Linked DNA regions of Homo sapiens: region 2 is linked to region 1. Evidence: fine-mapped expression QTL. A gene starts in region 1. The other region holds a variant in brackets. All regions are shown on one strand. Distances are between the middles of the regions. Region 1 holds the start of PIEZO1 (piezo type mechanosensitive ion channel component 1 (Er blood group)). Region 2 overlaps PIEZO1 (piezo type mechanosensitive ion channel component 1 (Er blood group)).

The links.
Region 2: its variant is fine-mapped to the expression of PIEZO1 in skeletal muscle (GTEx, PIP 0.92).

What each region holds. Positions count from the first base shown.
Region 1 is chr16:88,782,280-88,787,279 of GRCh38, forward strand. It overlaps PIEZO1 (piezo type mechanosensitive ion channel component 1 (Er blood group)), which reads right to left and starts at 2,941. Exons shown (of 51, transcript NM_001142864.4): 1 at 2,622-2,941. The coding sequence starts at 2,685. RefSeq lists silencers at 1,770-2,089, 2,590-3,069, 3,110-3,439 and an enhancer at 2,172-3,085.
Region 2 is chr16:88,743,332-88,748,331 of GRCh38, forward strand. All of the region lies in intron 2 of PIEZO1 (piezo type mechanosensitive ion channel component 1 (Er blood group)), which reads right to left. PIEZO1-AS1 (PIEZO1 antisense RNA 1) reads left to right here. Exons shown (of 3, transcript NR_120387.1): 1 at 1-159; 2 at 261-1,013; 3 at 1,758-2,417. Among named protein-coding and RNA genes, the nearest start is that of PIEZO1-AS1, 3.1 kb to the left of the region's middle. RefSeq lists an enhancer at 533-1,219 and a silencer at 2,237-2,296. The variant G/C (reference allele first, on the strand shown) is at 2,589.

The sequences.
Region 1 (5,000 bases):
TTTAAATATTTTTCATAGAGATGGGGATCTCTACGTTGCCCAGGCTGCTCTCGAATGGCTACGCTCAAGCAATCCTCCCACCTTGGCCTCCCGAAGCTCTGGGATTACAGGTGTGAGCCATCGCGCCCAGCCCTGCCCTGACATCTCTCTAGAAGAGATGGGCCCTGATCCCCCAAGGCTCCAGCAACATTAGGTGAGACTGCTGAAGGAGGCCCCTGCTCCCTGTGGGTGGGGCAGCTCCCTGCCAGATTTTTGGGTAATGATCCTGCACTGGAGAGGGAGGGCGTGGGGGCCAGGGGCACCCCAGGATGACTCAAACCCTCACCAGGCACTGTCTGAGCCAGCGCAGGCACACACTGACTAATGCCTTCTGAAGGCCTCATTCATTTCCAAAACACGGTAGAACTGCTTCCAGCCAAAGCTCGCCAGAGAGGGAGGGGGCACTCCAAAGACAGCAAAGCCAGTGTCCCACCTCCGGCCAGGCCAGCTGAACCTGCACATCGCGGGTCCATCTGGAGCTGCCCACACCCCAGGGCCAGAGAGCCTGACTCAGGAGTCCCGGCCAGCAGGCAGGCAGGCAGGGTTCTTGGCCGGCTCCACTTCCATCTCCCCCAGGTGACTGAGAGAAAACACTGAGTGAGGCCCAGGCCCCACGCCCCATCCCCAGACACAGAATCAGTGTGGGGTATGGCCCGGGCTTCAGCATCTTTCAAATTAAGAGACTTTATTTGGGACCAGTTTTAGGTTTAAGGAAAGTACCATACAGACAGACAGTCAGTCATCACTATTCTTTAAAAGTTTCATAGAAGACTGACACGGGGCCTGGGTGAGCACCCCTGGGCTACCTCCCCATCCTCCCCAAGGAGGCCAAAAGCAAGAAGAACAGTGATCCCTCCCCCAGATCCCCCACGCGGATAGCAATCGAGAAGGCAGAACCCAGGCCCCCTGACCAATGCCCAGGGGGCAGCAAACCACATGTGCCACAGAATCGGGCTCAACACCTGTTTAGGTACAGCCCATGAACTCAGGAGGGCTTTTACATTTAATGGCTGGAAAAATACCAGAAGAAGAAGATTTTGTGACATGAAAATATTTACCATCTGGTCATTTAAAGAAAAACATTGCCAACTCTGCCCAAGGAGCAGCTGCCATCTGAGAGGGGGGGCATTCCCTGCAGGGAGGACACCCGCTCCCACTCAGACACAAGAGGAAATGGAACGATCAGTGTGAACGGGACGTTTCAGAAGCTTTCCTGTTTCCCTCTCTAAGGCCTGTCAGCTCTAGACTCTGCCTCTGTGCCAGGCTGTCCTGCTTGTTTTCAAGGCACAGGAAGGAACACAGCCGGGCCCTGTTTACGGCCCATCTGACCCTGCACTGGGAGCAGGTCCCAGGCTGCCCAGTCCACACAGGGCTGACCGCACTGAAGAGAGTTGCTCAAAACCTCTCCTCTCCAGCCTCAATGGTTTTCATTGATTCCTGTCTAGAAAATCTTCCCCAAGTTTCACCACCTTTCTGTGCGACCGATCAAAACGCAGTCTGTCTGGGAGCCTCAGGCAGGCGGCTCTAGATCCCCAAAGCTAGCGCTGGGCGAGCTCCCACCTGGAGCGAGGCAAGGGCTCCGAAAGGGCTTTTACAATCAAAAGGCCCCACCTGCCGTGTCCATGGCGGACTCCCAATGCAAACCGTCCCACTTGTCCGTGGGTTAATTCCATCCGACTGCTTCCCAGATCAATCACACGTGGGGAGCCCCCGGGCGGAGGGCGCGGACCCTGGGTCCCGGCTAGGCCAGGGTCGGGGAAGGGTAGGGGTGCCAGGCCGTGCAGCACCAAGCCACCCGGGTGTGCTTCGCGAAAGGGGCACCACTGCCCGGCAAGCAGGGAACACAGATGCCAGGACTGGGGACCCCTGCCCCGCCCTGACACCAGGCCACAGCCTCCGGGGGTGTCCCCTCCCCCAGACCAGGGCAGAGGCCGGCCCCCGCCCCTGCGAAACTGAGCCCAGTAGGGCAAGGGAGGACCAGGGAGGAACCCACACTATTTTTTTCCAAAGTGTGGGACCGCCTCAGTCCGGCAGAGGGGGGTGCAGCGGTGAGCGGGGCTGGGCCCTGGGCACGGACGTTCGTTGGGCTCGGGAAGCTCCAAATTAAACAGCTCCAGGCAGGAAGCCCGCCTTCTCCCAGATTGTCAGGAAGTCCTGATGCAACTTTGCGCTTTTTTTTTTAAACCCGAAAGAGAAAAAGAGATTCGTGCTCCCCCCACCACCGCCGCGGCCCTTCCCACCGGGGCAAACACCGCCTCGCCCGGCGGCCTCCTCTCCGCAGCGCCCCGGCGGAGACGCCAGCCGCGCTATGCCCGGCGCTCGCTCGACCGCCCCCGTGGGCACGCGGTGCCGTCTCCCCCAGCCGCCGCCGCCCTTCCAGCCCGGCCCTGGGACAGGAGCCCCGCCGCCGCCTGGCGCGCTCATGCTTCAGGAATGCGGGCGCCCGGGTCGCGCGTCCCTGGGAATTTCCGCGCCCGCTCGCCCGCAGCCCTCGCCCCGGCCGGCGTCGTCCGGTGTCCAGGCCGTGGGGAGCCGAGACGCAGCCCCCTCCCGTCGCCCCCAGGCGCCCGCCCCCCACTCACCAGCCAGCAGCGCGCAGGGCAGCAGCAGCCAGTACAGGACCGCGCCGAGCACGTGCGGCTCCATGGCTGGAGGGCCCAGGGCCCGGCCCAGACCGAGCGGACGCCGCGGCGCTATGGGGCGGTGCGGGGGCCCCGGGGCCGGCGCGCCATGGCTGACCCGCGGGGACCCGCGCGCCGCCTTCTCCTCTTCCTCCTTCTCCTTCGGCCGCCCCGCCGGTGCCGACGTCCCGGGCCCGCGCTCGCTCAGGCGACCGCCCTGCCCCTCGGCGGAGCGCAGCGCTCGGCTCACTGGGGCCGAGCTGGGCCGGACGGCGGCTCCCGCCCTCCTCCGCCCGCGGGCCTTTATAAGCTCGGCCCCCTCCCGCCCTCCCCGGCGTGCCCGCCTCCGCGCTTCCCCGACGGCCCGGCGCGCCCAGGCACCCCCTCCGCTGTCCCGCGCGGCCCGTCCCGCCTCCGGCCCGCCCTGGTGCGTTGGGGCCTGGAGACCCCCGACTGGCGCTGGCCCGGAGCGGACCCCTCCCCTCCCGCAGTCTTGGCCCCGCGGCTCCGAGCGTGCGCGGCGGTGGGCAGGGGCGCTTCTCGCTGGGTGGGCTGCGGCTGGGGCCCGGGCGCTACATAAGGGGTCCCGGGGCCTCTGGCTCCCCCAGGCAGCGCCCCACGCGCAACTGCACCCCGCGTGCCCGAGCGACTTTCGCTTTGCTCCCCGAGGCGCGAGCACGCAGCGCCCCCTGGGGACCGTGGGGAGGCTCGGAGTTCCCGCGGCGGCCGGGCCTAGTGGTCCCGGAGGGAGCACGCGGGATGCTCGGGTCGCAGCAGTGCCGCGATCCGCGTTGGTCTGACGGGGGCTCGGGGGCTGCTCCCAGCCACGCCGGCCACCGCGCGCGGCTTTGCCCGGGTCGCTCTGGCGTGAGACGGTGAGAGTGAGAGCCACGGCCTGTGCACCTGCTGCCGCGGCGCCCTGCCACGGAGAGGTAGGGTCTGAGTCCAGGGTGTTCGGGACCCTCACCCAGGCCACGTCAGTTTGGCCTTCGTCTGCCCTTGAGATGGGCACAGAAAGAGGGCAAAGGGCTCTACACCGTTTAATTGGGCTCAGTTCATGGCTCTCAAACTCAGCTGCGTAAGGCAGGGAGTGGGGCTGGGGGGACTGTGGCCACTGAGCCTCAAGGCACTGGCAACTCATGAGAGCCCAGCACAAGCCCACACCCTCCAGCTCAAAAAAAAAAAAAAAAAAAAAAGATGGCGGGGCAGTGGCTCAGGCCTGTAATCCCAGCACTTTGCGGGGCTGAGGCAAGGGGGTAGGGGGTCGGGGGATCACTTGACGTCAGGAGTTCGAGACCAGCCTGGCCAACATGGTGAAACCCCGTCTCTACTAAAAATACAAAAATTAGGCCGGGCGCGGTGGCTCACGCCTGTAATCCCAGCACTTTGGGAGGCCGAGGCGGGTGGATCACCAGGTCAGGAGATCGAGACCATCCTGGCTAACACGGTGAAAACCCATCTCTACTAAAAACATAAAAAATTAGCCGGGCGTGGTGGCGGGCTCCTGTAGTCCCAACTACTCGGGAGGCTGAGGCAGGAGAATGGCATCAACCCAGGAGGCGGAGCTTGCAGTGAGCCGAGATAGCGCCACTGCACTCCAGCCTGGGCGACAGAGCCAGACTCCGTCTCAATAAATAAATAAATAAATAAATAAATAAATAAATAAATATACAAAAATTAGCCGGGCGTGATGGCAGGCGCCTGTATTCCCAACTACTCAGGAGGCCGAGGCAGGAAAATCGCTTGAACCTGGGAGGCAGAGGTTGCCGTGAGCCGAGATCATGCCATTGCACTCCAGCCTGAGTGACAAGAACGAAACTCCATTAAAAAAAAAAAAACCACCCAGAAATGGAGATTTTCATGGGAAGTCTAGTGTTTAAAGGCTGATATAGGCCGGGTGCGGTGGCTCACGCCTGTAATCCCAGCACTTTTGGAGGCCGAGGCGGGTGGATCACGAGGTCAGCAGATGGAGACCATCCTGGCTAACACGGTGAAACCCCATCTCTACTAAAAATACAAAAAATTAGCCGGGCGCGGTGGCGGGCGCCTGTAGTCCCAGCTACTCGGAAGGCTGAGGCAGGAGAATGGCGTGAACCCGGGAGGCGGAGCTTGCAGTGAGCCGAGATCACCCCACTGCACTCCAGCCTGGGCAACAGAATGAGACTCCATCTCAAAGAAGAAAAAAAAAAAAGGCTGATTTACTTTCTCTGCAAGTCTCACCCTCTGGTCAGGCTTTGAAAAGTTGCTGCAGAGGTGGGGAAGTCTGGGAGCTTGCCCTGCAGATGGACTTGCAAAGGTAGAGGATGTATGTGTCCTAGAATTGTTCAAGCAGCAAAAAGC
Region 2 (5,000 bases), 39 kb before region 1:
GGCTGTGGACAGCTTCCCTTTCCACCCCGGCACGTGCTGGCAGGAGCTTCCGGGCCCTCACCCTGGGGCAGCAACTCCTGCACCACCAGCCACGCCCGGCCACGAGAAAGTGCAGAACAGCTCAGGCCCTTCTCACAACTTCCTGGAGCTCAGGGACAGGTAGCATCTGGGTCTGGGTCCAAGGTGGTGAATGTCACCACCACATCTGCCCTCTCTCGGCCTCGGGGCGCAAACTCAGGGCCTGTGTCCACTCTGTTCAGTTTTTTGAGCACAAATGGTGTTAGGTGACAGACTCGGGATTGGCCTTGGACACTCAGCCCCCTCTTTCTGGAGCAAAGACTCATGACCCACGTCCAAGTCACCCTGCACATCCCTAAGCCTGACCGTGAAGCAGCCCTCACGGATGCCCAGGACTCCCTGTCCGCACCACCAGGCAGCCGAGGCAGGTTTGGACCAGCTTCTCACACTCACACCTTCCTAGGGTTGCCCCAGGCCCTGACCTGCTGACCCTGCAGCTATGACCTCTGACCTGTGGAGGATGGGAGGGGTGAGCAGCAGGGAGAGTGGGAAGGAGGAATGGAAAACCGTCCAGGAAGGGAGGCTGCAGCCCCGACACGAACAGGAGCCACCACCAGGGGGTGCTGTGCAGGGCTCCCGGAGGACAGGACCTTCCAGGGCCTCCCTGCCCCGAACCCATAGGTGCCAGGCTTCTCACTGCTCACGACCTCCGTGCCGGGCTCATACCTGCCGCGCCAGCCCCTCTTCAGCAGAGCACAAGTCTGGCAGCAGGAGGGCACCAGCCAGGGGCCCCGCGCCCCCGCCTCTGTACAGCAGGGTCACCGTGGGGTGACATGAGAACACCGACCCAGGGAATGGGCTCCTGCCACACCTGCCTGGGAACCTGGGCTGTGAGTCCTGCTCGCTGCACCCTCTAGCCTGACGTTGAAGTAACCTCGCCAGCGGGGCCCTCTGTGGCACTGGGCACTCAGGGAGAGCACGTGGCATTGGAGAAGGTATTCTGAGTCCTACAGAGAGGGACCTGCGGGGCCTGCCCCACAGGCACGTGGGGCTCCTGCTGGGGCTGTCAAGGACCCCCGGGCACTGAGAGGACATCTGGGCCCTTGGGCAGCCAGGCTGACGGGTTCCCTGCACACACGATCCAGCAGCCCGGGAAGGAACTGCCTGACCAGAGACCCCTGGGCAGGGAGGGGCTCTCAGGCCACCTGGCTCCCGCCCACCCGCCTTGCCCTGCACGACAGTCCAGGATGTCCGTCTCTGGCTACATCTCGGATGTCACTGCTTCCCCATTGTCTTCCTCCCTCCCCTTTCCCTGCCTCCTTCCCGGTTCAGTTCTCGGGCCGGCCAGAGTGTCCTGGTCTGGCCATGTTAGAACAGCTGGGCCATGATCCCTCCGCAGGGTCGAAGGGGCCGCAGCTGGGCCTGGAGGCCACTCCTGGCCACGTGGCACGCCCGCTCCCTGCCTGGGCTGGATCAGACTAGGGAGCTGAGAGTCCGAGGGGCACCCCGGGAAGAGACGCTGCTGGAGATGGGAGGGGGCCGGAACGTGCAGAGGGATCGAGGCTCTGCTGACCTGCACGGGGCGGGGAGCGGGGAGGTGCACACAGAGGCCGAGGGGGCACCCTGACACCGGCCCTCTTCTCCGACGCAAACAGCATGACCTCAAGGGGTCGGGTGGCTTTCTCGTGCCTCCACCTGCAGCCCCTGTCCCCGCCCACCCCGTCACTCTCCCCCTGCAGGTCCCACCCCCAAATGCAAAGCTGGGAAAACCAGGCTGAGCCGGGGATCAGGCCACCTCCGCAGGGACCCACTGCTGCCTCTTCCAGGAGCCCAGGAGACCCAGTGGGTCTCCTGCCCCCGACTCCAACTCCCTCCTGGCAGGACACACCCAGCTCACAGTGGCCTTTCCATCCTGGGAAAGGGAGTGAGAGGAGGCTCAGGCCAGGGACCCGCCCAGCTCTGGCCGGCAACCGCCCTTCAGCCTTTCCTGAACCACTGTGTGGGCCCCAACCCATCCGCTGCCTGCCGGAGGGAGCCCATGGGGAATGGACTATTCTTGCCACCCCTATCCATGGCAGGGGAGGGGCTCAGCATGGCTCTTGCCCACCCAGAAGAAGGTGCAGGGGGCCTGGCGTGGTGGTTCACACCTTTGGGAGGCCGAGGTGGGTGGATCACCTCAGGTCAGGAGTTTGAGACCAGCCTGGCCAACATGGTGAAACCCTGTTTCTACTGAAAATACAAAAATTAGCCAGGCGTGGTGATGGGCACCTGTAATCTCAGCTACTCAGGAGGCTGAGGCAGGAGAATCACTTTCACTTAAACCCAGGAGGCGGAGGTTGCAGTGAGTTGAGATCGCGCCACTGCACTCCAGCCTGGGCAACAGAACAAGACTCCGTCTCAAAAAAAAAAAAAAAAAAAGGGGCCGGGGCTCCCCCTCCAGCTTGCAGGGCTCTCAGGAGGAAACAGGAAGGGGCGGGGAGGCCCCAGGGTATTGCAGACCGGATGGTTGACAGAGCATGGACCTCCCCCAGAGCCGGAGCCCTTGGACCCCGGCACGGCCTGCAAAGGCT[G/C]AGGGGCCCCACCACGGCAGCATCCTGATGCGTGGTCCATAGCCACCATCCCCACACCTGCCGGACAAGGGCTGGGCCTGATTGTTCTGTGGGGAGTGTGGAGTTGCCCTGAGTCTGATCCGTGGGGTGTGCATGGGAGCCCCCTGGAACCTGATCCATGGGGTGTGCATGGGACCAGCCAAGGGACCCAGGGTGCCTTGAGGCTGAGCCATGAGGCCCACCCAGCGACAGCTAGGGCTGAGCTGCGGGGTAGGGCCACGAGAGGGGCCTTTTGAGACAGAGGATGGAGACTACACAAGGCTGGCAGAGCCGGGGGACCAGTGAAGCTGGAGAGGGTGGCAGGGCCTCCCTGCACGGGGCATGGTAAGAGGTGGGGGGTGATCTCTCTCCAGACAGCAGGGTCAGTCTTGGAGGTGGGTTTTATCCTAAGGCAGGATGGGGCTTCTGAGTCCCTAAATGACAAGCAGGTCTCTGGGAGCCACCCCCTGTGGCTCTGCCTGCAGCCCTGCCTGGAGCACCAGGGTCTGTTCCCTCTGCCCCAGCCCCAGCCCCTACCCCTCTCCTCCCTGTTCAGTCTGAGCTCAACCTCCAGCCCCCCAAGGATCAGGCTGACGCCTACAAGGGGACCAAGGCTCAGATGGCGTCAGAGCTTCCACCAGGGCCACGCCAAGCCCAGCAGCTGCACAAATCATAAAGCCCCGGGCACTCGGCTCGGGCAAGCCTCACACTTTCCTCTCTCCCTCCCGGAAAACTGGGCAGCATCTCCGTCTCTGAAGGGCCTCTGACGAGGCTCAGGCAGGGAAGTCCTCCCGGGTCCTCTCCAAATCTTCCCACCCCAGCTCCTCCCCTGGCCTGGCTGGGCGCCTGCCTTCCCCCACTGCTGATTAAAGGAAAGTGTTTCCAATTGCGCCCTGGGCATGAAATATTTACGGAACAAACGGCGAAACGCCAGGGGCCTGGGAACAGACAGAACCGGCTCCACAGAGCAAAGGGGAGGCCCAGGATAGGGACCGGGAGTGGGGGTGCCCACCCACCCCAGCCATGCATCCTGGAGGGGTTTGGGCCTCGGGCCCCAGCGACTCCCAGCACTCGGCCGCACTGGGCCCCTCCCAAAATGCCTCTCTGCACCCCTGAATTCTACCCATGATCCAAGATCAGTGCCTGCGCTGGGCACAGTGACTCACACCTGTAATCTCAGCACTTTGGTAGGCTAAGGCAGGAGGATCGCTTGAGCCCAGGAGGTGGAGGCTGCAGTGAGCCATGATCATGCCACTGCTCTCCAGCCTGGGCAACCAAGCAAGACCCCCACTCGAAAAAAAAAAAAAAAGCCAAGCACGGTAGCTCATGCCTGTAGTCTCGGCCGAGGTGGGCAGATCACCTGAGGTCAGGAGTTCAAGACCAGCCTGGCCAACATGGTAAAACCCCTGTCTCTACAAAAACACAAAAATTAGCCAGGCATGATGGTGGGCGCCTGTAATCCCAGCTACTCGGGAGGCCGAGGCGGGAGAATCGCTTGAACCCGCGAGGCGGAGGTTGCAGTGAGCCCAGATCGTGCCATTGCACTCCAGCCTGGGTGACAGAGTGAGACTCCATCTCAAAAAAAATAAATAAAAAAGACCATTGCCCACCCCACAGCACCACGAGCTAGGAGGAGCCTCTGGGATGCTTCCAGCCAGATGTCGCGAGGCCGGAGAGCGACCTTCCACCTGCAGCTGGCAGAACGATGGACCCCAATGATGCCTGCACCCCAGTCCCCAGAATCTGTGAACGCAGAAGCTCACATGCAGAGGCGAGTCCAGGCAGCAGAGGAAATGGGGGCTGCCCAACAGCTGACCTTAAACCAGGGAAGTCGGCCTGGATTAGCCGGGGAGGCAGATGGGACGAAGCCACAGGGTTACCGCAGGGGAGAGGGAGCAGGAGAGACAGGGTGTGATCCTGACCCCACCCCACCGGCTCTGGAGATGGAGGGAGGGGCCCCAAGCCCAGGAAGGTAGGCACCTGGAGCAGCTGGAAGAGGAAGCAGATCCTCCCCAGAGTCCCCTGGAAAAACGCAGCCCGGTGGACACCTCGTAGCCATGGACAGGCCCCGACGCTGCCAGCCTGATGCGTCCAGCACCTCCCAGAAGGGCGGCACCCAAGAGCCTGTCTCCACAGTCACGCCCCCTGGTCCTGCTTGGCCTCCTCTCTGCCCTCTGCTGGGGAAGGTCTCTTGCTGCCTACACTTGCCCTCCCTGGGGACCTTCCTTCCTTTCAGTGGCTCTTCACCCTCCAAACCCAAAGACCAGCGGAGGGCCCGGCCCCACCCACGTTTGGCCCATGGCCTTTGGGGACAGGTCTCTGAGTGTTTGCTCCAAAACGCGCTCTCCTAAAACGTGGGCACAAAATGGACATGGCCCCCACAGGGCAGGTAGG